4 linked regions of the Homo sapiens genome follow. The protein of the gene in region 2 interacts with the protein of the main gene of each other region in a biochemical or structural test. Each region holds a gene or a part of one and is shown on either strand. Other genes may lie near its edges. The genes, in order: LGALS1, PTPRC, LYN and CD2.

Region 1 (7,191 bases), on a different chromosome or scaffold from region 2:
CCTCCCCTACCTTCCCTGGCTGGAGCACCCAGGTTGGCTGCGGGTGTGGATGGCGCCTCTGTGGGCCGCCCTCCTTCAGCACCGCCAGCTGAAGGAGGTACAGCTTCCCTTTCCCCGCCTCTGCCCCCTGTCCCTGGCAGGGCGGGAATGACCGAGCTGGCCTGGATGACTTGTCTAGACCAAGCTGAGCCCATTTCTCATGGCAGCAGCCAAGATCCAGCCCAGGACAAAGGAATTCCAGAGAGCTCACTGCCTCTATTTCAGGACAGTTATAACGTGGGGAGGAGAATCCCTGGGGTGGTGGCCTTAGCCTGGGGGATGCAGGAGGGAGCACTAACATCGAGCCCCTCCTTAGACATCACTCCTATCATCCTCCAAGCAGTGGCCTTATTCCCATCTTCCAGGCCTGGAAACGGGTTCAGAGAAGCCAAGGACCTCAGCTACAGCTGCAGCCACTCAGCCCCCAAACCAGAACTCACCACTCGTCTCATCTCCTGATTCTTTTTTTTTTTTTTTGTGATGGAGTCTTGCTCTGTCACCCAGGCTGGAGTACAGTGGCACTATCTCGGCTCACTGCAACCTCCATCTCCTGTATTCAAGCAATTCTCCCTGCCTCAGCCTCCTGAGTAGCTGGGGTTGCAGGCACCCGCCACCACACTCAGCTAATTTTTGTATTTTTAGTAGAGATGGGGTTTTGCCATGTTAGCCAGGCTGGTCTCGAACTCCTGTCCTCAGGTGATCCACCCACCTCAGCCTCCCAAAGTGCTGGGATTACAGGCATGAGCCACCGTGCCCGGCCTCTTCTGATTCTAACTGCAGCTTCATTTCCCTGTGCAGAAATTCAACCAAGTTGGCAGACACAAAGTAGGGGCGAGGGGAAGATGAGAGGGGAGATAATGAAAGCAAGGCGCCGGGCACAGGGCCTGGCAAGATAAGTGGGCGCTGCCACTAGGAGGCCCTGAGGACTAGGGGGAGGAGGCCCACGATGCACCTGTGTCCCTGCCTTCCCTCCCCGCCAGGAAAACCGCAGCTCCTGTCACAGGGGACACTGGAATCTGGAGAGACTTCTTGCCCCAACCTCGGCAAGAGGAGACTGTTGGGGACCTGTTGGGCATGACATGTAGACCTCCCAGAGGTGCTGCAAAGACCTAGGGAAGGTAACAGCCTGGGAAGAGACAAGAAGGAAGTGAAAACCTTCTGAGCCTCCATGAAAACACGAATCATCTGTTTAGTACAACAGACCTCAGTTCCACCCTGTATTCACCTCGTGCAAGGAAAGCAGGATTTCATCTCCCCAATTTACAGATAGGGAGACTGAGGCAAGTGGGAGAAGCAGCTTGCCAGGAGGCTCTGAGGGGACATAGCAAGCAGGGCCAGCACCCGCGTGTCTAGACTCCCAAATAGGCCTTTCTAGGGACCTCTTCACCATGCCACCCTGCCTCCCTGCCAGCCCCACTCATGCCAGACGCTGCAGAGGAGTAAATTGTCCCTCCATCCAACAGCAAACAGTCCCTGATGCCGGGCCCATTTTCCAGGGTGGAGGAGGATGCAGGAGCAGCTCCTGAGGCTACAAGAACCCAATTATTGGGCTGGGCTGGGAAAGTGGCCACACCCACCCGCCCGCAGCCCGGCGAGGACCACACCTGAAGCGCCTCTGACCCTCGGTCTAGGACTCCGCCTGAGATGCCCCATTCCTTGATCTGGCAGAGAGGGGAGGCATGGGGGAGGGGCAGTGGAACTAGGCTGGGCCCCATCCAGCCCTTCCTATGGTTGAGGTTTTGGGGAGGCCCGGAGGAAAAAGTGAAGCTGCTGTGGTTGGTTTCCAAGCAGCCACTTGGTCTGGAAGGAGGGGTAAGGCACTCACAGGGGTGCAACCCCATCCCCTCTCTGGGTCCGCCTTGCGGCCCTACACACTCCCCTCTCATCCTGTACCAGAGTGGGCTTTGGGCATCTGGAGGAAGGTGCCCCTGAGAGGCAGGGTGGGTGTGTTGGCCTGGCTTCCAGATGTGAGTCACTCCTGGTCCGCATCTTCGTCCCTCTTTGGTGCCAGCAGTTTCAGAAGGGGGACGGCCAGGTGGAGAAGGAGGTCCCCGTGACAACCCCCCAGCATGCCCCTCATTTTGCCCAGTGCTCCCCACGCCCCTTCCTCCACCAGGTTCCTGAGTGTAAGGTGAGCACCCCTCCCACCCACCCTCAATTCTCTGCCACAGTGATCTTCCCTAGAGCCCAAATCTGGCCTCAGTACTCACCCTCCCTCTAGCCCTGGCTCCCCAGCCTCCTCCCATACAACAATGTCCAAGCCCTGTGCCCAGCCCATGAGGCCCTCCATGGTCCAGGTCCTGTTGGCTTCCCAGCCTCATCCCCGTTTTTCCCCCACATGCCCGGAACACTGTTCTCCAGCCCTGGCCTTCTCATTCTGGAGCTTCTGCCCATGGTGGAAAGCCAGGCACTTCTCCGCCTACCCTTCACGACCCACCTCCTTTACTCATGCAGCCGCCAGCCCACCATAGCACTTTCTCATGGCTTCCCTTACAGCCATCATCATCTACTTCTTTTTATTTTTATTTTTATTTTTTATTTTTTTTAATTGAGACTGAGTTTCACTCTTATTGCCCAGGCTGGAGTGCAATAGACTGATCTCGGATCACTGCAACCTCTGCCTCCTGGGTTCAAGCGATTCTCCTGCCTCAGCCTCAGGAGTAGCAGGGATTACAGGCATATGCCACCATGCCCAGCTAATTTTGTATTTTTAGTAGAGATGGGGTTTCTCCGTGTTGGTCAGGCTAGTCTCGAACTCCTAACCTTAGGTGATCCGCCCGCCTCGGCTTCCTAAAGAGCTGGGATTACCGGCGTGAGCCACTGCGCCCAGCCCATCATCTACTTCTTAACGTGGTTGTGGTCAGATTCCACCCCAACTATGCGCTCCTTGAGAGTGGGGACTGGGAGGGGTTCAGCTTTGAATCCTCAGAGCCCAGGGCCAGGTACATAGTAGGTGCTCAGTAAAATACCTGCTGAACACTCAGGGAAGGGAGGGCTGTGCCGGGCCTCAGAGGAGATGTTAAGAGAGCAGACAGGGTGGCCAGGCATGGTGGCTCACACCTGTAATCCCATTACTTTGGGAGGCTGAGGCGGGTGGATCAACTGAGGTCAGGAGTTTGAGACCAGCCTGGCCAACGTGGTGAAACCCCGTCTCTACTAAAAGTACATAAATTAGCCGGGTGTGGTGGTGGGGGCCTGTAGTCCCAGCTACTCGGGAGGCTGAGGCAGGAGAATCAGTTGAACCTGGGAGGCAGAGGTTGCAGTGAGCTGAGATCACGCCACTGCACTCCAGCCTGGGCGACAGAGCGAGACTCCATCTCAAAAATAAATATATAAATAAATAAAAATAAAAAAGAGAAAGGACAGGGTGCACAGAGCCAGGACCCCACCCCCTCCTGGTCTGGACCACCCTGGGCCATCTCCTAAGCTTGACACTCTCAGGCCTGAGGCTGTCAGGCCAGGGCGCTTTGACTATCCCCTGCCTGCCCCTGAACGCGGCCAAGCCCGAGGCCTTAGCCAAGCCCTGCAGCCTCAGGCTTGGCGCCCGGCCCAGCCTTTCTTTAGCCTTCCCGAGGAGCCAGCGAGAGAGCGCTGCAGCAGCCGCAGTCCTTGCTTCCGGGGAAGGCCCGGGTGGGGCCAGGGCCTGTGGTTAAGTCAGTGGCCCTCTGCAGACGCGCACGCAGCAGGAGCCACGCCCTGGTCCCTGCCCGGGAGTGGCCTGGTCTCCCCCAGCTCTGATTCCCTGAAGGACCCTGCACCTCCTCAGCCATCTTCTCTGGGCACCCCCTGAGCCCAGCCTGCTGGCCACAGGCCCCTTCCCGCCAACTTGTGGGCCTAGCTCATCATCAAACTATTTTCCACTGGCTTCCCCCAATCTCTGCCACAGCACAATTTTGGTGGGGAGGTGGAGAGGGATGAAGGAGAATAGGAGGTGGAGCTTGGACTCTGGCCGGGGGCGGCGGGGTGAGGGGGGGCAGCAGCTCGCCACTCTGATTGGTCACCTCTGCTCCAAAACTGGCTTCAAAATTCCACGGACTCCGCCCCCAGTGGCCCCCAGCCCTATCCTGACTTGCAATTGGCTGAACTTTCAGGGGGCGGGGCTCACCCGGTCCGGTCCAGTTAAAAGGGTGGGAGCGTCCGGGGGCCCATCTCTCTCGGGTGGAGTCTTCTGACAGCTGGTGCGCCTGCCCGGGAACATCCTCCTGGACTCAATCATGGCTTGTGTGAGTGTGGGGACCCCCCCCCAAGGTCCAGGGGATAGGGCAGGAACTGATGGCCAGAGGAGAGCTGGGCAGATCGGGAGCAGATTCTAGCCCCAGCTGTGTGGCCTGGAACCAGTGCCTTCTCTTTTCTGGACCTCAGTGGCCACATCTGTAAAATGGGGGTGGGCGCCATGGTCCCTCAAGGCCTTCTCTGCATTGATAATTGTCTGGATTCCTCCAGGGTCTGAAAGCACAGTTATTTCTGCCCAGGGTTGACATTCTGCAGCTCTCTGAGAAGTGAGCGTGGGAAGGGTGTGGCCAACTGGGGGACACCCAGGCCACTATCCCTTTCCCCCTCCTCCACCCCAAAGAGCCTCCTGTCCCCTCCCCCCTGCAGCTGTCCCGGTCACCAGGCCAGGGCAGAGTTACCCTCTGCTCCAGAGAACGCTGAAAAGTTGCCAGGACCCGAGACAAGCTGCCCAGGATGGGCCCTTCTAGGTCGGGGGTGGAGGGTGGTTGTGTCCAGGCTGGTGGCGGGGGGGGCGGGGGAAATTCCCTTCCACCACCCCCAAGCTGGGAGGTTGGGGTGGCAGGGAGGTGAGAATCTTCCTCGGGCCCCAGGGAAAGGGTTCAAGTTTCTGGCAGAAGAAACCACTCAAACCAGTTAACTCTTGCCCACCCACTCGGGGTGCCAGGGAACAGCAGTGCCCAGCAGTTTGCTCAATCTTGTTAACCCTGAGCCAGCCCAGCCACAGCCCGACTGCAGGGCTATTCTCCCTAATGCAGAGAGGCCGTGTTTTTCAGGGTCTCCTCTCTAGCCCCTGGGCCTCTTTGCAGAGAGGGGCTTGAAGGAGAATAGTGGGGTCGCCCGCCCCTAGCCACTTCCTCTCCAGCAGAGGGGCCGGCCCCTCCATTCAGTGTGACGGTGGGCCAAGTGTCGGCCCCTCCCCAGCCTGATCCTCTCCATCTGCGATGGGACAGAGCACCCCATCTCCCAAGTCACTCTTGAGTCCAAAATTCCCAAGCCAATCTGCAAAATCTTCTAGAGCCTGTCTTCTAGAACCTTCACGTTACAGACTGAAGCCAACCCCGGTGGGAATAGGGACTTTCCCAGGACCACATAGACAATCGGAGGCTGGAAATTACAGCTCAATCCTTTCCCCAGGCTTCCCCTTGGCTTGGTCAGAGGATGCCGGGCGGGAACAACCCCACTCCCACCCCCAGCCACCCCCGGACACTTCGAGCAGTGGAGGCCTTGTCCTCTAACCCGGCTGGGCCGGGGCTTGTCTGTGCAGGGTCTGGTCGCCAGCAACCTGAATCTCAAACCTGGAGAGTGCCTTCGAGTGCGAGGCGAGGTGGCTCCTGACGCTAAGAGGTGAGAAGTGAAGTCGGGGTGGTGGGCGGCAGGGACGGGCTTGGTCCAGCAGGGAGGGCGTGGCCGGCCAAGCCCACATCTCCTCCCTGGCCGGGAGCGGGTTAACGGCCAGCCGCCGATGCTGCGTTTTCTGGGTGACTCACTTCCCCCGCAGGGTCTGGGCGCCCCCACCGTTGCCGCCCCCTCCCCCGCTCCCTCCCTGCTGTAGCCTCTTAAACTAAACCAGCTGCAGCCTCGTCATCTGTAATACCTTGACTCCCCCGCCCCCACCCCTTTCCGGTCTGGGCGGGACCTGTCGCTGGGGAGGGCGGGGAGAGGAGTGGGGCGGGCGTCACCGCCGCCTTCCCCCTGAGTCCCTCCTTCCTGCGTCTGGTCATTCATTCATTCACTGGCTCAGTCCGGTCCTTCTTCCTTCACTTCTCATTCACTCAGACGGCTGCCTTATTTTCTCGGCAGTTAGGTGACCTTGGACCAGTCAACCAACCTCACCTAGCCTCAGTTTGTTAGAAAAACAAGGGGGGAGGTGGTTGTGTGGAGGAAGTGAGATGCGGCTGGCGCAGTGACAGTGAGGAGGATGAGGATCAGCTGATATTGTTAAGAGCCGCACACTTCTCATGCACTAATTTCATTTCAACCAAACCCTCAGAGGCAGGTATTGCTATTATCACCACTCAACAAATGTATTTATTATTTTATTTATTTATTTATTATTTTATTATTTTATTTATTTATTTTTTGAGACACAGTCTCACCCTGTCGCCCAGGCTGGAGTGCAATGGCGTGATCTCGGCTCACCACAACCTCCGCCTCCCGGGTTCAAACGATTCTCCGGCTTCAGCCTCCTGAGTAGCCGGGATTACAGGGGCCCACCACAACGCCCAGCTAATTTATGTACTTTTAGTAGAGACGGGGTTTCACCATGTTGGCCAGGCTGGTCTCGAACTCCTGACCTCATGATCTGCCCGCTCGCCTCGGCCTCCCAAAGTGCTGGGGTTACAGGCATGAGCCACCGTGCCCGGGAGTATTATTATTATTATTTGTTAATTCGCCCCATAATTACTAAGCATCTTTTTCTGGTGTGCCCCACTTGTGCTGGGCACCGGGAATACAGAGATGTACAAGACAGGACGGGAGGTCACCATCTGGAGGGAGTCACTGACCTTGACCAAACGGGCTAGGATGCTAATGACTTCAAGAATCAAGCGAGCCCTCCTGTGCAGCCCCCATTGTACAGATGAGCAAACAGGGGAAGAGGGGCAGGAGCAGGTGGCATGGCCAGAGCTAGAATCCAGGTTTCTTGTCTCTGTTAGTGAGTTCTTCCAGCAAGGTGCGTTCATGGGATACTGAGTGACAGATTAGTCGGTCAGTGGGGCTGGAGCTGGCCGAGGTGGCCTCATGCCCACCCGTTACCCCCCAGCTTCGTGCTGAACCTGGGCAAAGACAGCAACAACCTGTGCCTGCACTTCAACCCTCGCTTCAACGCCCACGGCGACGCCAACACCATCGTGTGCAACAGCAAGGACGGCGGGGCCTGGGGGACCGAGCAGCGGGAGGCTGTCTTTCCCTTCCAGCCTG
Region 2 (7,031 bases):
ACATGACAAAGCAGATGCATTCATAGTAGCCAAAACCTGGAAACAGCCCAAATGTGTATTCACTGTTGAATCCTAGGTAAAATGTGGTGTATCTTTACAATAACTACTGATAATTTTTTAAAATTCTAACTATGACACATGCAACTAAGTGAATGAATCTTCAGAACATTACATTGAGTGCAATATGTTAGGAGTGAAAAAGTACTTACTGTTTGTTTCATTTTATTTACATGCAATGGGTAAAAAGACAAACTTAATCTGTAGTTAACAGAAAGTTGATCAGAAGGTACGTGAGTCTGGTCAAAGGAGCTGAGTTGACTGGGAAGTACCACAGAAGGACATTTTGGGATCACAGAAATTTTCTTTATCTTGATTGTGGTGTTGGTTATGTGGATGTATACATTTGTTAAAAATGCATTAAACTGTATCTCAAATGGGTACATTTTAATGTAAATTTTACTTCAGACATTTTATTTAAACATTTATCAGTTTTTCTCAGTTTCAAATGACTAGTTACTGGAAGCAATGACAAGTGCTACTCAATGACTGCTAAATTTATTGGTGCTATGAATGCCAGATTTTTAGCACAGCAAAATCTACAAATTCCAGGATTTTTAGGTAGTATCTGGGCAAGAATATATATGAATAATGTATATGAAAGGAAGAGGGGGTTCTTAGATATCTTCAAGTCAGTGGAATGCTTAGGTTTCACAGTGCCAATCTGGTGTGACATTTACTTTGTTAAAGGAATTTACTCTAAAACAAATTAAATGAGCCCAGATGCATTTCTTTAAATTTTATTTTGAATTCATCATTTGTCAAAATATGGTTATCAATAATGCATGCTTATAATATGAAGAATGCTTTATCCATGTCTTATTTTTCATATTACATAACATTCTTATTCTTTTAACAGGTCCAGGAGAGCCTCAGATTATTTTTTGTAGAAGTGAAGCTGCACATCAAGGAGTAATTACCTGGAATCCCCCTCAAAGATCATTTCATAATTTTACCCTCTGTTATATAAAAGAGACAGGTAATTTGTGTAGAATTTAATTTCATCAGAAAAGAGAAATCAAGAATTTGAAAGTACTAGAAATTTTTATTGAGCCAGTGAGTCACAAAGCTCTCTGCTTAGAGACTGCATAGGCATAGTATACTCCCTGATCTTAGAATTGCTTCCACTCATTCAAAGCTTTCCAGCCCCAGAAATGACTAAAATCCAGAACATTCTAAATATTTGCTTGTCCTTCTTGGTCTTAGTTTAAATCTTTGTGCTCCAAAGCCTAGAGACAGAAAACCTCTGGATGACAACACTCATTTCTGTCTTGCAAGTATTATGTAAGTGATTTGACTCACTTTGAACTCATCATTCAGCCTCCTAAACAAACCAACAAACAAGCAAACCCCTTGTAAAACTTGTTTCAGCTAATAATACAGACAAAATGTTGGGTGAATAAAAATGAACATGGGCCCATGTAGCCGCTGGGGCCAGTTTGGTGTAATCTTGGGAGCATAGTTCTAAGTTTAGAATTAGACTTCTGCAGAAGTAATGCAATTAAAAAAAAAAAGAAGAAGAAAGAAATGTGCTATGACTAGTTCACTCATGAAATGTTCAAATGAGATGCTATTTAAGAGAACAAATATCTTCTGGACAATTTAAAGTATCTAAATTGTTTGTAGAAAGTAACATCAGTGGAGTATCTCAGAGCAGCCTCAATGCCTGGGATAGCCCTTTCTCTATTCTTTTATCCATAGGTTAAAATAGGAATGAAGTGAACCTCATAGAATTCTGTCACTCTGTGCTGTGGGGAAGGAACCAGACATACACTTCAAAACTTGAAAAGTGAAAGGCTATTTTTCTTCATTATGTTATTTTATATTTTAATGGCCTTTTCTTGCTAGTGTCTTTAGGTCTTAATAATCAGACTACTAAAGCAAAGTTAAATATGCATGTAGTTTTCAAATTAACATTCAAAGGCCAAGGAAAATAAATATATACTATATATTTGAGGTTATGATAAATTTAAAAGTTAAGTCTATGTGGAAGGAAAAATGGAAATTCCAGGAAGATAAAACAGCAGAGGTACTGTCTGCCTCATTGGACACCTCTTTTACAAACACTTTGTGTAGCTTCTATGGGAACACATTGTTCATTTTTTTTTTCTCTTCTCTGAATCTTCTATTCACTATCCCTTTCTGCATTCCTCAATGTCTACACTCTCTCTACTAGAGAGTATTGTCGATGTCAGAGTATATGGTAGACATTTTATGCATTTATGGCTCTTTTATATTTTTACAGTTTTTTTAAACTGTATTTCCACTGTATTTGCATAATTAGGGTAAAAAGGATGTAATGAGTTAGTAGCAACTCATTACAGCAACTAGCATGGGTCCTTCTTATTGGGCAACTAAATAGTGTTACCCAAATTTAACAGCTGTCCACATAGAACACTTAAACGGGATTGAATGGCTGAGAAGGGGAGGCTAGCTATCAGGCTGTGTGTTTTCTTTTCTCCAAAGCTGCCGATTGGTGACTGAATGCAGCTTTGGACCATGCCCTGACACTGCATAAAGGGCTCTTTGGAGCCAGCTCTACTCTAAACAGCGTGCTCCGCTTTTGTTTTCTCCTTCATCTCAAACATATACCTGTCTCCTCTCCCATGTTACCTAAGGCAAAGAGAGTTGATAGGATTATAGTATCGTTAAGGCAACTTAACTTTTCTCACCATTTTAAATAAAATTACTATTAAAAATCCACAGGAAGAAAGTCTATGAAATTTGCAGTTTACTTTTTAATCAGATATTAAATTTCACTTCATTACTTCACAATTTAATTTTTTCAGTGTCTCTAAAAGAGAGGGATTAAAAGAGGAGAAAAAATGCAATTGACATTAATTTAGTTTTATTGGTTTAGCAGGTTTTTTTAATTATGTATTATTTAAAGATTTTATCAACTATTTTAATAACTCAGTGGAGATGTGCATACATATCTTCATAGTTCATATGATGAAACTGAGGTTAACAGAAAATGTGATAGATGTTCAAGTTCAGTAGCTTGATCTGTTTCCTTTCTGCTCTTGGTTTTGTTTGTTTGTTTGTTTGAGAGGGAGTCTCCCTCTGTCGCCCAGGCTGGAGTGCAGTCATGCGATCTCGGCTCACTGCAAGCTCCGCCTCCCAGGTTCACGCCATTCTCCCGCCTCAGCCTCCCTAGTAGCTGGGACTACAGGCGCCCGCCACCACGCCCGGCTAATTTTTTTGTATTTTTAGTAGAGACGGGGTTTCACTGTGTTAGCCAGGATAGTCTGGATCTCCTGATCTCGTGTGATCCGATCCGCCCGCCTCGGCCTCCCAAAGTGTGTTTGTTTATTTTTCCTCACATTTTTAGCTTAAGATATTTTGGAGAACTGCAGTTTTATCTCGTTAACTTAATGATGGCAAGTGACAGTGAAGCTTCTTGGTAATTGGGGAATTGGGGAAGAGATCTTTTGTGCTTTATTGGATTTAAAGGATTATTTTTCAAAAGTTACTGAAAGCAATAGGCACCTTTCAAGACCACCATGATGTTGCTGGAAATTATTTTGTGTAATGCCTTTTATTTTTTTAAGAAAAAAAAAACAGAACAAATTGCTTAATCTCTCTGTGGCTCAGTTTTGTCATCTGTAAAATCAGATGATAGTGAGTACCAACTAATAGTTGCAGTGATGGTTAAATTAATTATTTCATGTATACCCCTTGAAACAGTGCTTGGCACATACAGTGAGTTATTATTTTTAAAAATCGTTATTGATATTATTATTACTGTTGCTGCTATCCAGAAACATGTTGCCACTCTAATCATCCTCTTTCCTGATGTCACTTGGCTACTCAAAAATAGCAGCAGCTGGTGATTTTTTTACTTAACAAGTGCTAAGTCTTCTGCCTGAGTGTGAAAACACACTTAGACACTGTCCTACCTCTCATATGCCTCCCCAGCCAGAGCTGTTGTCCTGATCAGGTTTGTCACTAAACTCAAAAACATTCCTTCTTCCGTTTGTAATATTTTCTTTTCTCCCTTACATGTATTCAGTTCCACTTACCTTTCAATGAACAGCTGAATTCCACTTCCGGCATGAAACTCCCTCATTCTCACAGCTCCCGTTAATTACTGTAGTGTCCAAATTACTATGATAGAATCAACCCAATGACTGATGATCAAATGGATTCTGCATCTAACATTCAAAACAGTAGCTAATACCGATGTTCAAAGTTTGGAGGTTACATATCAGAAAAGGTTTTCTAAAAAAGAATCATTCTGAAACATGCAACTCAAGACTTACAGTATACACTGGGGGCTGTGTTTTCTCAGAAACAAAAGAGATCGTCTTCACAAATGAATCTGAACTTATTAAATATTTTATGTACCAAATTAATGATATAAAACCATAATTTTTCAATATTTAATTTTACCAATGATAATTGAGTTTGTTCAATACACTGGCTGATAATTGTAGGTACTTTTGAGTATCAAGGATGTACTTATTTTTCAATCACTCAATAGTTTGGAGTTCACTTGGAACAATGTGATGTAGAGACCAAATTAATTAGGTACGTGGTAGTACTGACTTTTAACGACTTACTAATTTTTTTTCACATTTTTCCTCAGAAAAAGATTGCCTCAATCTGGATAAAAACCTGATCAAATATGATTTGCAAAATTTAAAACCTTATACGAAATATGTTTTATCATTACATGCCTACATCATTGCAAAAGTGCAACGTAATGGAAGTGCTGCAATGTGTCATTTCACAACTAAAAGTGCTCGTAAGTTATATGTTTTAATGCTTCTTTCCATAAATGGTAAAAAGCAAGGTATGAACTTTTTAGCCTACAATATTTCTATCTTTATTCTAGCAAGCACATTTACCTGGCACATTTGTTAACATCTAGGGCTTATAAACACGTAAAATCTAAAAGTTTAAAAACCGTTATCCTGGATTCTCTCTCTTCTTCAGATATAGTCATAGAATTTTAAGGACAAAGCATAAAAGCATCTTAATTGGCATCAGTTTGTGCAATTTCATGCAGTTAAGTACTTAACCAACTTAGATTAAAACATTCACTGTTTGCTGTTGTCTTTACTATCTGGAAATATTAATTGTAATCAGAAACCTAACAATGTCTCATAAAGCATTAGCCTACTAACCTCTGTTCATCTGATAAAACATTTCATAAAATGTAATATTTTATTAGCATTTTCTTCTCTTCGTTACCCTCAACTACTTACTATTCTATTTTATGTCACATTATCCATTTAAGGTTTCCTTTCAATGGCATTTGGCTCTTGCCACTAGTATAATCTCTCCATAGTTTCCAGGCCCAAAGTTAGATCTGCTTCTGGGGCACATGTTAACCTCCATCGAGGACAGGGAAGAAGAAATGCCGTGTTTTAAGGCAGCATCTATAGCTCCAGAGACCCTAACGGGCACTAGACTTGTGAAGAAATATTGTGCTATTTGGGGCTGAATATAAGACACTTTTAAGGTCATTTAGGTTTTGGTTTGAAAAGTTCTGGTCCTGGAGCTCTATGCTTTTGTTGTTTTCCTGAGTTTCTGTATCACAGAAAAAGAAGACAATTTGTTTCTGTTCCTGAAGAACCCATCTAGGTGTTTACCAGGATAACATTAGCACTCCGGGAAAGAAGGGTCTAGATTGTGTAATAGGACTTGGAGGTTTCCCAATCAACAACATTTTTCCTCTCCTCTCCCCAAACTTCCCCCTCTTCCCCACTCCCTTCCCTTTTTCTCTATTCTCTAATTCTACACAGTCTCCTTCAGGGATTGCAATAACTCTCATGGCTTCATGTACAACCTATATGCTAATACTTACTGAATAAATGAGTGATTTATTCTTCAGGGTTTTGATATTGTTTTTTAATTTATGTACTATCATAACTTCCTTATTTATAACCCCCAAGCTAACACTTAAAATACTTTATACTATATCCAAGTATTGTCAAGTAATTTACATATGCATCTATTAAATTATTAATAACAAATCTTTCTTCATTTTGATAGCTCCAAGCCAGGTCTGGAACATGACTGTCTCCATGACATCAGATAATAGTATGCATGTCAAGTGTAGGCCTCCCAGGGACCGTAATGGCCCCCATGAACGTTACCATTTGGAAGTTGAAGCTGGAAATACTCTGGTTAGAAATGAGTCGCATAAGAATTGCGATTTCCGTGTAAAAGATCTTCAATATTCAACAGACTACACTTTTAAGGTAAAAGTATGCTCTCTACATTACTATAGTACCAACTACATTATAATGATTGATTCATAGTACTTAAATAACTTTAAGACCACTGCTCACATGAGATTGAGAAGCTCTGATGTGTAATGGAATCACACTTAAAGAGTCTCAAATATTTGACTCTAAAATTTTTATTCCTATAGCTCAAGTCAGTGGTTTAAAGCAAATGTTTCATTGGAATATTTTAGAACTTCAATATGACTTAATTATAGCTAAATTATTGCTTCTGTGTTAAGAAGCACAACACTTTATGCACAACAGATTATTACTTTACCAAATCTACCTTTTCTTTACTTTGGCTTTTTATCTTTATTAATGTGGAATTTTTCAATTGCAAAATTTCACAGGTACCTTGAGGTTAGGAAATATTTGAAATAAACACTAGACAATACTAGTGAGCATACAGAATTTAAAACACTCATTATCTCACTGTCTACTGATCGTATTTTGTACATGTAACTTCATAATATACACATTTATATGCACTTAACACGTATTATCAACATTCTGAGTACACAGTTTTCAAAATACAGTTTTAAAACTGTATTTTTAATATATCACTATATCACACACACCTTTCTATGTTAAATATTTAACTACTATGTAGTTTTTAATGCCTGTATAATATTCTATGTATGGCTTTATCACATTCTATTAACTATAACTATGTTGGTCTCTAATATAAACAACATTCCGATAACACACTTATTGGTAAAGCAAAATTTTTGAATGTCT
Region 3 (7,031 bases), on a different chromosome or scaffold from region 2:
AGGCTGGGACAGAGTCAGCTATGACCGCTCAATTGCTGCTGTCTCATCTGGGCTCCTGTAACCAACTCTGGTCTGTTTGAGCCAGGCATCGTGGTTCTATCGCCAAAAGCCTACTGTGTTATAATCGTACACTCCTTTCTTTCACACATGCTCAGCCTGATCTTCGCTCTCCACTTTTCCCAGTTTTACTGGCTTTTTCTAACAAGTCTTGTTGAACTTGGGTTACCAGCAGACAAAAGGAAACAGAGGCAGGGCTCCTCTCTCCCAGCCGCCACCAAAATTGCCACCCCGTGTCATCTGTTTCAGTAGTGCCCACTCTAGAAGGAGCTATCCTGAACTTCCTGACGCCCTCACCATGCCACTGCCTGCTGTTTCTGGGCAGCAGAGGCTTCCTAGAGAAAGTCAGACTCAGGAGCTCTGCCTTCACCTGGTTATCACCACTGCCCACCTTCTGTTGACTTCCCATCAAGGCTGTTTGAATCTTTTCCAGGGTCAGGTAAAAGCTGTGCATCTCCCCAGTGCTCAGGGTTTGTGACAGTTGGGAGAAAGGCAGGGGACACGAAGTCACTGCTCTCCAAACCTGCCCTGTCCTTTTCCTACTGTCCGTCTGGTTTCTGCTCCACTCAGCCTCTGTCCCACTTCTCAAGTCCCTCATGAAATGAAGCCTCCTGCTGTGCTTAGTGCTGTGCTGTGCTCAGTGCTGGGATGGGTTCATGTTCCTGCAGAAATTGTGGACAGGTAGTCAGGTGAGGAGCAGGGAGCACTGGGGATGCATGCACACCTGGCAGGAGAGGGTATGCCAGGCATGGCTTCCGGGAGAAGTAAAATCTCAGCTGAGACAGGCAAACTGCATAGGTCGGGTGAAAGGGGCAGGGAGGGAATGAGCGTTCCACACAGAGGCAGGGGGTGTAGAAGCACAAAGGAGGGGGTCGTGGTGAGGAGGTGGAGGGCTGAGCCGGGGCCGGGTCATACGGGGCCTTGGCAGCAGTGCAAAGGAGCTTGGACCACATTCTTTGTTTCCACTCGGAAGTGAAATACTGGACTGAATAGTCTTTGAGACTGATGTAGGCCACACTGATTATTTTACTTGAGATTTTTGTGACCATGAGAATATCATCTGCCAAATCCCTGTAGTAGTGGGCTAACAAGATAGTATTCTGGTCATGTGAAAACCCCAGCCCATTTCCCAAAGGACTTACTTTGTCTCTGATAAGAGGTTTGGTGACAAGTTTGAAGGCTCCAATGTATACAAGTGAGAATAGAAAAGATATTTTCAGCCCTAGAGGTGTTTATCAACTGGCTAACATGACACCACTGAGAGCATTAAACAGCATAAAAATAATGACAAAGCTGTGATCAGCAGCTGCAGATGGTTTTTGTACACATTGACCATCTAGGGTGAGTAAAGGGGAGTTCAGGGAAGGCCCACGGGGCAGAAGGTGAGGCCAGGGATTGGCCTAGAGGGGAAGCAAAGGCAGACCCAATACCAAGGAGCTAATCTTTTGCTAAGCAACGTGGTCTGGAACTGGCGGCCTGAAGTGCTTGATTACCAGGGATACTGTTGCAGATGACTGGGGAAAGTCAGATCCTCCAAGCCGAGCCACCTGCAATTCAAGGTAGAATCTGGCAGAATACATTCATTCCTGTGTGAAAAATTCGAATCAGAGTTTTCTCTAACTGCTTACCAGATAAACTACTACTTGGCTTTCTTTACTTCTTGCCCTTTTTCTTGCTTCTTACTTCCCTCCTTTCCTCCTCTCTCCTTGTTTCCTTCCTTCCTTCATTTCCTTGTTCCTTCCTTCTTTCCTTGCTTGCTTTCTTCCATCCTTCCTTCCCTCCTTCCTTTCCTTTCTTCCTTCCTTCTCCTTAACTTTATAATTTGGTAATGTCTTCCTTAAAAACCTGACTTTGGAACGATACTACACTTTCTATTCAGCAACGAGTAGTAGTTTTGCCTCCCTATGTTATTGTTGTGTTTAAATCCTGGATTCTTTCCTGCTGTCATACTTTGTCATGAGAGTGAATCTTGCCGGGCGTGGTGGCTCATGCCTGTAATTTCAGCACTTTGGGAGGCTGAGGTGAGTGGATCACCTGAGGCCAGGAATTTGAGACCAGCCTGATGAAACCCCATCTCTACTAAAAATACAAAAACTAGCATGGTGAAACCCCGTCTGTACTAAAAATACAAAAATTCGCCAGGCATGGTGGTGCGTGCCTGTAATCCCAGCTACTCGGGAGGCTGAGGAAGGAGAATCACTTGAACCTAGGAGGCGGGAGGTTGCAGTGAGCTGAGATCATGCTACTGCACTCCAGCCTGGGGGAGACAGTGAGACTGTCTCAAAAAAAAAAAAAAAAGAGTGAATCTTTGTGATTGTCCTGGAGGGAATGTGCAGAGAGAACTTGGAGAGCCAGTTCCATGGGCTGTTGATTAACCTGACAGAAACGACATCCTGTTCTTGATACCTTAATAATTTATTTGTATTAGCATGTCACTTTCTCCAACTCTATTTTCATAGTTGGTTCAGGCTGCCATAATAAAATTCCATAGACTGGGTGGCTTAAACGAGAGACATTTATTTCCCACAGTTTAGGGGCAAGGAAAGCCCTGGCAGGTTTCATGTCTGATGAGGGGCCATTTCCTGGTTCATAGATGGCACCATATAGCTGTGTCCTCACGTGGTGGAAGGGGCAAGGCAGCTCTCTGGGGTCTCTTTTACAAGGGCACTAATCCCATTCGTGAGGGCTCCACCGTCCTGATCTAATCACCTGCCAAGGCCCTGCCTCCTAATACTATTGCCTCGGGGTTCAGGATTGCAACATTTGAACTTTGGGGTAGGGGGCGGGGAATGGGACACAAACATTCAGACCATAGCATCTGTTTTCTGATTTGAGAAACTGGCATAATAACATCTATGTATCTACATGGATGAATTTAGCAGGGTCTTGAAAAGATTCTTCACACATTAGAAAATGTTAAGACATGGCCAGGCGCGGTGGCTCACGCCTGTAATCCCAGCACTTTGGGAGGCCAAGGCGGGCGGATCACGAGGTCAGGAGATCGAGACCATCCTGGCTAACATGGTGAAACCCCGTCTCTACTAAAAATACAAAAAATTAGCCGGGCATGGTGGTGGGTGCCTGTAGTCCCAGCTACTCGGGAGGCTGAGGCAGGAGAATGGTGTGAACCCAGGAGGTGGAGCTTGCAGTGAGCCAAGATAGCGCCACTGCACTCCGGCCTGGGTGAAAGAGCGAGACTCCGTCTCAAGAAAAAAAAAGAAAATGTTAAGACATGTTCCTTTTTTTTTTTTTAAGATGACCATTGTTGGAGATTTGGCAGAGGGTGGTCAGTTATTTTAGAAAGGGCTCAAATGGTGATTGCCATTACCCACTGTCTTTAAAAGCTGAATGATCAAAATAGTATACATGAAAAGATTTCAGGAATTCATAAGTTTTCCGGTTTTCCTTGATGGCACTTTCCAGTCACCTACCCTACATATGAAAATGGGAGCCTATTTCTGTTTTCAGATTGCAGAGGGAATGGCATACATCGAGCGGAAGAACTACATTCACCGGGACCTGCGAGCAGCTAATGTTCTGGTCTCCGAGTCACTCATGTGCAAAATTGCAGATTTTGGCCTTGCTAGAGTAATTGAAGATAATGAGTACACAGCAAGGGAAGGTATGTTGCACTAATGATCTTTAGATGTTTTATTATTGTGTTTTATTTTGTTTTTGTCTGTTTTTGACAAAGCAATTACAATAGTCACCATTAAGAAAAACTTATTTGGTACAACATTTAAGCTGTACCATAATTGTCTGCTTATGGTTCTATTCTAATAGTTTCTAGAAGGTACTCTCTTGATTAACTCCACATGATACTTTTGTTAGGCTTACAAATGCTATCAGTTGTATTTCAATTAAGCAATGCAAAACACAAATAGATTCAGCAAGATGATTCTTGTTTATTTTGTATTGTTAAAGTTTTCACTCAAACAATGAATATAATATACGGGGCTGTGGAGAAAATATTTGTAACATTAATTCTATATTGTTTATTCCAGCCTTTTAATTACAAATTAAAACATGAACATTACCATACACACAGAACTAAATATAATGCAAAAAATCTACTTCTTTATTTTCCCACATTCTGTATTATATATATGAACCAAAAATGCACAGAGAGGCCTAAGTTCCCCAGCCTGTGGCACATTGTCAGGGGGCCAAGCATGGTCGGGACTGCAGGGCCTTTCTTGGGCTAGGATTGCCCACGTGGTTATGACTGAGGATTCTTATGCTCTCACCCACGAGAGCTGAGCAAATATTTTTGCAGTGCTCACTGTCTTCTGGAAGAGACAAGCACTTTCTTGAAATTCCTAAGCATTGTTGAACAAGGATTATTATTATTTTATTATTTTGAACCTGGGAGGTGAAGGTTGCAGTGAGCCGAGATCGCATCATTACATTCCAGCCTGGGTGACAAGAGTGAAACTCCGCCTCAAAAAAAGAAAAGAAAAGAAAGTATGGGGTCACATGTTCATGACTTTTTTGTTTAAGTTTAAATACCCAAGTAAGAACCACATATCTTCTTCCTTAGGTGCTAAGTTCCCTATTAAGTGGACGGCTCCAGAAGCAATCAACTTTGGATGTTTCACTATTAAGTCTGATGTGTGGTCCTTTGGAATCCTCCTATACGAAATTGTCACCTATGGGAAAATTCCCTACCCAGGTATGGTTTACTTAGCTATTTACAATCAAGCTGTATAAATGAGAAAAAGTCAGGTTGCATGAAGGCATTAAAAAGTAATAATTACTTCATCTACCCGATAGCAAAGAATAAGTGCTTTGAGCCAGAACTTGATTTTCACGGGCTGGGCATGGTGGCTCACGCCTGTAATCCCAGCACTTTGGGAGGCCGAGGCAGGTGGATCACCTGAGGTCGGGAGTTGGAGACCAGACTGACCAACATGGAGAAACCCCGTCTCTACTAAAATTACAAAATTAGCCAGGCATGGTGACGCATGCCTGTAATCCCAGCTACTCGGGAGGCTGAGACAGGAGAATTGCTTGAACCCGGGAGGTGGAGGTTGCAGTGAGCTGAGATCGCGCCATTCCACTCCAGCCTACACGACAGAGTGAGACTCCATCTCGAAACAAAAAAAAGACTTGATTTTTATTTTCACTATCTTTAGCATAAATTGTTCTAAGAGTGCTTAGACACTTCTTTGCCTCCTTATTTTGAGTGTGTGTTCTTGTTCTGCACTGATTAATTCCACCACATACTAGAATGTTCCGGGCATGGTTGTTGGTGTCGAGATGAGGATGGATAGACACAGGGGCTCCTCCAAGGCAGTCCCCCTGACTGGAAGGAGGAAACCCACATGGAGACAAGGATTTCCGATGCTTGGTTTTGTAATAAGTGCCCTGGAGTCTCTCTCTCTTCAAGAAATAACCACCTTTGTTTATCAGTGGGAGGCCCTTCTGCTCTTTAACATACTGGTATCAGTGAGGGCATCATTCAGTATTTATTTCCAGATTCCTAACACCTGAAGCCTGCAGAGCCAGATTCTGACCATCCCTCCATTTTTCCATGGTCTGTGCTGGCATGGTTAAGAAGAGGGATTTCGGCCAGGTGCAGTGGCTTACACCTGTAATCCCAGCACTTTGGGAGGCTGAGGTGGGTGAATCACGAGGTCAGGAGTTCGAGACCAGCCTGGCCAACATGGTGAAACCCCGTCATTACTAAAAATACAAAAAATTAGCTGGGCGTAGTGGTGGGCATCTGTAATCCCACCTACTTGGGAGGCTGAGGCAGGAGAATCACTTCAACCTGGGAAGCACAGGTTGCAGTGAGCCGAGACTGCACCCCTGCACTCTAGCCATGGCGACAGAGTGAGACTCTGTCTCAAAAAAAAAAAAAAAAAAAAAAAAAAAAGAGGGATTTCTCCCAGAGCCTTCATATTTTCATTTATGTTTGACTATTAACAAAATATTTGCATGAGGGGAATTTAAAATTAAATTTTTAATGTTTAAATCTTTCTCCTATTCAAAAAATATTTGAGTATGCTAGGCACTCTCAGCTGCTAGGATGCCATGGTATCTGCCCATGTCCTTGAGAGTGAATATTGTAGTGGGGAGAGACTGATGTTTATCAAACACACAGCCATCCTGTAGGGTGGTGAGAGTAGTGTGGAGCCTGCGTGGAGTGGCTTAGGGATTGGCGAGTACTCACAGAAGGGGGTGGGGAGCTGCTGGTTTTATTCCATGGTCCTGGCAGCAGCAGGGACTCACAGAGGGAGGGAGTCTTGGGCTCTCTGAGGTCTGCATGTCCCCATGGGGAGAGCAGCCAGAGCATGGGCTTGGCCAACAGGAGCAGGAGGCCAGCGTGGTTTGGGCCTCTGTGAGTATTTGATGGATGGATGGGTGAATGAATGAATGAATGAATGACGCACCTAGGCCATTTGATCTCTAGACAGTCGATGGATGAGAAAGAAGGCTATGTAGCTGGGGGTTAGAGTGGCTCAGGGAGAGACTTACTGGCCATGTAAGAGCAGCCCCTCTTACTCTGCTGAGATGCAAACCAGGGAAGGCTTTTGGACAGAGCAGCCACACAGTCTGCGTGCTCCCATCACTACTGTTTCATGTGGGGATGAGCCACAGAGAAACTGGGGCAGGGACCAGTTGGCAGCTGAAAGCCTTTGGGTGGTGTCTGCCTGCACAGTGGACCGGCTGTCCCAGGAAATCCCTTTAGTGCCAGCATTTCATCTTCCAGCTGCTCTAGACACTGAGATTAATGAATTAACATTGCTGCAAAATAGGAAAAATATTTCTAATCAGCCCCAGTGTCTGATGTTATATATCTCTATCTCCATCTATGCCTACATCTCTTTCTATAATCTGTCTGTAGAGAAAGATTATATAGTCAGATTATGTATATAATCTGACACCTGATAAACATACAATCTCATAAAAGAATGTTTTGTGATATGCGTGGTGTGCTGCATGTGATGTGCTACCATGGCCCCTGAGGC
Region 4 (5,331 bases), about 82 Mb from region 2:
GGCAGCATCCTTGGCCAGAGTAATGGGCTCTCTGCCTGGACCCCTCCCAGCCATCCCACTTCTCTTCCTTTTGCAGAGAAAGGTCTGGACATCTATCTCATCATTGGCATATGTGGAGGAGGCAGCCTCTTGATGGTCTTTGTGGCACTGCTCGTTTTCTATATCACCAAAAGGAAAAAACAGAGGAGTCGGAGAAATGGTAAGCTCCCCCTCTTTTGTCCCACCGCAGGCCCCAGCAAAATCCCCATGAAACAGCTCATGGGGATGACACCTTGAATCTGCAGAGAAAATGATGGAAATAGGTAGTTTCGGAATGTCAGGGTTGTAGTCAGCGGTTATAGCTTGTTTCATTTTGTGGTTAGCTTGATTTTTGAAAAACAAATTCTTAGTGGTGACAATGTGGGAGCTTTGAGACACTGAATCCAGTTGGCCTCATTGGAATCCACCACTGAGGCCTACTTGGTGACAGGCTAATGTGAACATCTTTTGAATGAGCCACACTTCTCTACATAGGCAGAAAGGTTAGCTCCAAAACACCGTTTCTAGGAATAAATGTCCTATCTATGGGTGGCCCAAGGTGAGTTCAGGACCAAGCTCCTAGAAACACAGGGAAAATCATTCAGGTCATCAGGTAGTCACAGGAAAACAGCTGTTCTAAAGCAGGGTGCCTGTGCCCCCTTTGCTAATTCTCTGTTCGAGGGATGTGTTAGGGTTGAGAGTTTTTCCTCAGATCAGGCCTGTCTGACAATCTATCAGCAATGAAAAGGTTATGCTTGCAAGTGGGGAGCCGGCTTAGGGAGCATCCAGGCCACCCAAGGCAGAACACTTCAGAGAATGGCCAACCCGGGGTCACTGTGGGGGGCACAGATGAGGGTGTCAGCCATTGGCGGGACTTGCAGCCAAGGGAACAGGCCCTGGGGTTCTCTGCAATTCACGTTCACAGCAGGACTTGGTCTCTCCCTAGAACCGGCAGGCACAGCCACACCAGCTGCTTCCAGTGCTGCCCAGGGAGGTGGTCCAAACTTCCCCAGGCACCGGTGGCCTTGGGCCCCGTGCCCTCTGGATTTGGCTTCTTTACCTCAGATTTCTTCCTCAGTTCTCCTTCTGCCTCCCCATCAGGCTGCGGTCCCTCAGCCCCACGTCCCATCACGTCACTACCCCCAGCCCAGGCCCCGAAACATCATCCTGAACTTAGTCCCATTCTTCCCACCACGACTGTCCCACACTTTCCACCACAGCACAGCAGAATCGCTGGCAGGGCCCTTAGGCATGCCTGGCTTATCCTCCTCTGTGCCCAGCTCTGGCTGTTCTCCATGCTCCTCTCCATGCTCCTTCTCCATTGACTAATGGTCAAAGACCATATCTTCTTCCAAGGTGGACCTCACTTGTCACCCCAAGACAAGGCAATCTCTGCCATCACCAGGCTGAGAAGAATGATGGTTAGCTCATGCTGATAAAAAAGTCGTTAGTCTCTGTGTTTTATGTCTATTAGTGCATCCAGCTTTCAGAGTGATCTTAGGAGATAGATAACAACACAGATGAGGAAGCTTAAGTTCAGTGAGGTTCAATTATTTGCCTTAAATCCTATGGCCAGTAGGTTGACTCAGGCCTAGGCCGAGGCAAGGAGCCCAGAATTTAAGGCATAGAATTTAAGGAGGCTGGCCTGCCCTTGCACAACCTGAAAGTTGGTGTGTCTTTAAACTGCATGCCTGTCAGCCTCGCTTGCCTCATTCCAGTCATGCCCTGGGTTGAGTAACCAGGAGATGCAAACAAGGGAGAAGGACAATGAGCCTGGAGGAATTCCTGGGAGCACACATTTAGGCGCCAGCTGCAGCTGCTGGAGTGGGTAGGCTGAGGACCCACTGTCCTGCTTGAACCAGGCAGGGTGCACAGAGCCGTAGCCAACCTTGTCTGTCCAACCCTGCCTGCAGTCTCAGCCATGTGGCTACACCCCATTCCTCCTACCAGAGCTCATGTGCCTCTGTCTACACTTTCTGGTGGCCCTGGGCTCTTCACAGAAATTGACATTGCGATTTTCAGTTCTTGTTTGCCTCTTACTTGATTTTAGGCTTCCTGAGGACAATTTGTGTCTAAGTCACAATGACACTTAACACTTGGAAGATGAGGAATAAATGTTGGAAGGACAAATGAACCAAATGGTGTATGGGCCAAGTGTGGTGGCTCATATCTGTAATCTCAGCACTTTGGGAGGCCGAGGCAGGAGGATCATTTGAGCTCAGGAGTTTGGGACCAGCCTGGGCAATATAGTGAGACCTGGTCTCTACTTTAAAAAAAAAACTTAAAAATTAGGTGGGTGCATTGGTGTATGCCTGTAGTCCCAGCTAGTCAGGAGGCTGAGGTGGGTGAATCATTTCAGCCCGGGAGATCAAGAATGCAGTGAGATACGATCACACACTGCACTCCAGTCTGGGCAACAGAGCAAGGCCCTGTCTCAAAAAAACAAAACAAATAAAAAACAAAAATAGTGGGTGAACAGAGTAGTAAACCAATGGCCAGTGCAAGCTTGCCACATAGGAGATGAAGAAGGACCACCCACTGCCCCATAATTCAGAACTAGGGCCAGGGGTTAGAGCCCTCTCCACAGTCTACTGGACATAACCTAAGCAATGACTGCAGGGCACGGAAGATGGCATAGAGGATGTGTTTTGTCCTTTCTGGAGGCCCTTTCCTCTTTGTGCTTAGAGCACACGAGCCATTTAGGTATCAAAATCACATTGTCTAACTTTGACTCTACACTCAAAGCCATCTGATGCTCACATTTCATGTAGTCAGAGGAGGCCATCTGGTTTGAATCAACATCCGGAAGTTACAGGGTGATGCTTAGAGAGGGCTTGTGCTTCCCCAGCCACACATCTCCATAAAGATGTAAGAGGTAATTATTTCAGCTGGGTGCGGTGGCTCATACCTGTAATCCCAGCACTTTGGGAGGCCAAGGCAGGCAGATCACCTGGTCGGGAGTTCGAGACCAGCCTGACCAACATGGAGAAACGCCATCTCTACTAAAAATACAATATTAGCCGGGCGTGGTGGTGAACGCCTGTAATCCCAGCTACTCAGGAGGCCGAGGCAGGAGAATTGTTTGAACCTGGGAGGCAGAGGCTGCAGTGAGCCAAGATCGCACCATTGCACTCTAGCCTGGGCAACAAGAGTGAAACTTCAACTCAAAAAAAAAAAAAAAAAGAGGTAATTATTTCACCCCAGGGAAAAACTTCTCTTCCTACCTCCCTCTGGAGCCACTGCAAAGACGGCCTTGGGTGCAGGGACTGAAATACCTAACTTACAGCCTAAAGGAGTCCAGAGGGGCCAGCAGGGTGCTCCAGGCCTCTAGCAGCTGGGCACCTTCACAGATTCCCTGTGATTTTAAGAGTACAGGAAAAACTACATTACGAGTAGCTGTAGGCCTGCTTTCATGGACTGAAGTCACACAAAGAAGAAAATCCTGAAGGGTGAGGAGAGGAGGAGTTCTTTCCCTCCTAAGGCCAAGAACATAGGTCTTGAATTTCTGAGAAGCGAGTAAATTTCTAAGGACAAAAAGTTCCTTGCATGTGTTCCAACCTCTTGCCGGAAGGTGGATTGCATGACAGTAGAATTGGGGGAAAGGCAGATCTAACATAGAAATGCCTCAGAAGGAATGTAGTTACTAATATCCTCCATGACTGCTCATAACCCCTTCCCATGCGCTCTAACCATGAGGTTCTTGCTCTCAGGGAACAATTTCTAGGTCAGCACAGAGGTAGGGTTCCAGGTCTGCGTGCTCTCTCTGATCATGGGAGCCCCAGGCACAAAGCCCTCCACCCATGTGTCTTCTTCCTGCTGATTCCTTGAGTTCTCTTGTCCTAGGCTTTCACTCTACCTTATGGTGAGCACTTCTTTCTCTCCTACAAGCTTAGAGTTCTCAGATAGTAGGGGCAACTTCTGCTTCCTCATTGCATCCCCCAAAGCAGCTAGCATGGCGCCTTGCATATAAAAGGTACTCAATATTTACATTGATTTCACCTGGCCAAGATGAACTCTATTGAGGTTTTGTTGTTGCAGATGAGGAGCTGGAGACAAGAGCCCACAGAGTAGCTACTGAAGAAAGGGGCCGGAAGCCCCACCAAATTCCAGCTTCAACCCCTCAGAATCCAGCAACTTCCCAACATCCTCCTCCACCACCTGGTCATCGTTCCCAGGCACCTAGTCATCGTCCCCCGCCTCCTGGACACCGTGTTCAGCACCAGCCTCAGAAGAGGCCTCCTGCTCCGTCGGGCACACAAGTTCACCAGCAGAAAGGCCCGCCCCTCCCCAGACCTCGAGTTCAGCCAAAACCTCCCCATGGGGCAGCAGAAAACTCATTGTCCCCTTCCTCTAATTAAAAAAGATAGAAACTGTCTTTTTCAATAAAAAGCACTGTGGATTTCTGCCCTCCTGATGTGCATATCCGTACTTCCATGAGGTGTTTTCTGTGTGCAGAACATTGTCACCTCCTGAGGCTGTGGGCCACAGCCACCTCTGCATCTTCGAACTCAGCCATGTGGTCAACATCTGGAGTTTTTGGTCTCCTCAGAGAGCTCCATCACACCAGTAAGGAGAAGCAATATAAGTGTGATTGCAAGAATGGTAGAGGACCGAGCACAGAAATCTTAGAGATTTCTTGTCCCCTCTCAGGTCATGTGTAGATGCGATAAATCAAGTGATTGGTGTGCCTGGGTCTCACTACAAGCAGCCTATCTGCTTAAGAGACTCTGGAGTTTCTTATGTGCCCTGGTGGACACTTGCCCACCATCCTGTGAGTAAAAGTGAAATAAAAGCTTTGACTAGACCCGTGTCTGCTCATTGTGTGAAGGATCCCAGTGTCGAGGAGAGGAAGCTGCCGAATAAGAAAGAGCCTCGCTGGTGTGACAGCAGGATCAAATTCAGTCAACTCAATCCGGCTGAGACCTCCTTAGTCCTCACCAGAATGACCCGAACATGCTCCCCAGGTCTCAGCTGCAAAGCTGGGTCCAACAACCTATTTGTAGATTTCCATAATGAATTAAAGCCTCCATGCACAAACGTTAACAGGAGTCACCAGAAAACTTAACATTTTAGGTCTTACTTTCTTGACTGTTCAGACACGGTCATAATGACCTGTACTGTCATCCTTCAAAACAAGGGAATCTATGGATACTGGAGGTGTCATGAACTCATCAGATGACATACAAAAAGATAGGCTAAGAGACAACTCAGTTGAATCAAATCTTAAGTGTCTTAAATGACTATGATTAAAAGGTCAGACCCCATCCCCAGCTAGCAGTCATGCAGCTGTACTTTGAGGGAAGTGGGGAGAAA

Evidence for each region.
Region 1: the proteins of PTPRC (region 2) and LGALS1 form a complex in vitro, tested with the Homo sapiens proteins (one study listed by IntAct).
Region 3: the proteins of PTPRC (region 2) and LYN form a complex in vitro, tested with the Homo sapiens proteins (one study listed by BioGRID).
Region 4: the proteins of PTPRC (region 2) and CD2 form a complex in vitro, tested with the Homo sapiens proteins (one study listed by BioGRID).

Annotation. Positions count from the first base shown.
Region 1 is NC_000022.11:37,671,450-37,678,640, forward strand, and holds the start of LGALS1 (galectin-1), read left to right. Parts: upstream 1-4,186; 5' UTR 4,187-4,253; coding exon 4,254-4,262; intron 4,263-5,536; coding exon 5,537-5,616; intron 5,617-7,033; coding exon 7,034-7,191. UniProt on the Homo sapiens protein: Lectin that binds beta-galactoside and a wide array of complex carbohydrates. Plays a role in regulating apoptosis, cell proliferation and cell differentiation. Inhibits CD45 protein phosphatase activity and therefore the dephosphorylation of Lyn kinase.
Region 2 is NC_000001.11:198,712,037-198,719,067, forward strand, and holds part of PTPRC (receptor-type tyrosine-protein phosphatase C isoform 1 precursor), read left to right. Parts: intron 1-916; coding exon 917-1,036; intron 1,037-4,645; coding exon 4,646-4,804; intron 4,805-6,057; coding exon 6,058-6,266; intron 6,267-7,031. UniProt on the Homo sapiens protein: Protein tyrosine-protein phosphatase required for T-cell activation through the antigen receptor. Acts as a positive regulator of T-cell coactivation upon binding to DPP4.
Region 3 is NC_000008.11:55,994,821-56,001,851, forward strand, and holds part of LYN (tyrosine-protein kinase Lyn), read left to right. Parts: intron 1-3,525; coding exon 3,526-3,679; intron 3,680-4,597; coding exon 4,598-4,729; intron 4,730-7,031. UniProt on the Homo sapiens protein: Non-receptor tyrosine-protein kinase that transmits signals from cell surface receptors and plays an important role in the regulation of innate and adaptive immune responses, hematopoiesis, responses to growth factors and cytokines, integrin signaling, but also responses to DNA damage and genotoxic agents.
Region 4 is NC_000001.11:116,764,408-116,769,738, forward strand, and holds the end of CD2 (T-cell surface antigen CD2 isoform 2 precursor), read left to right. Parts: coding exon of another isoform or gene 1-76; coding exon 77-199; intron 200-4,056; coding exon 4,057-4,376; 3' UTR 4,377-4,822; downstream 4,823-5,331. UniProt on the Homo sapiens protein: CD2 interacts with lymphocyte function-associated antigen CD58 (LFA-3) and CD48/BCM1 to mediate adhesion between T-cells and other cell types. CD2 is implicated in the triggering of T-cells, the cytoplasmic domain is implicated in the signaling function.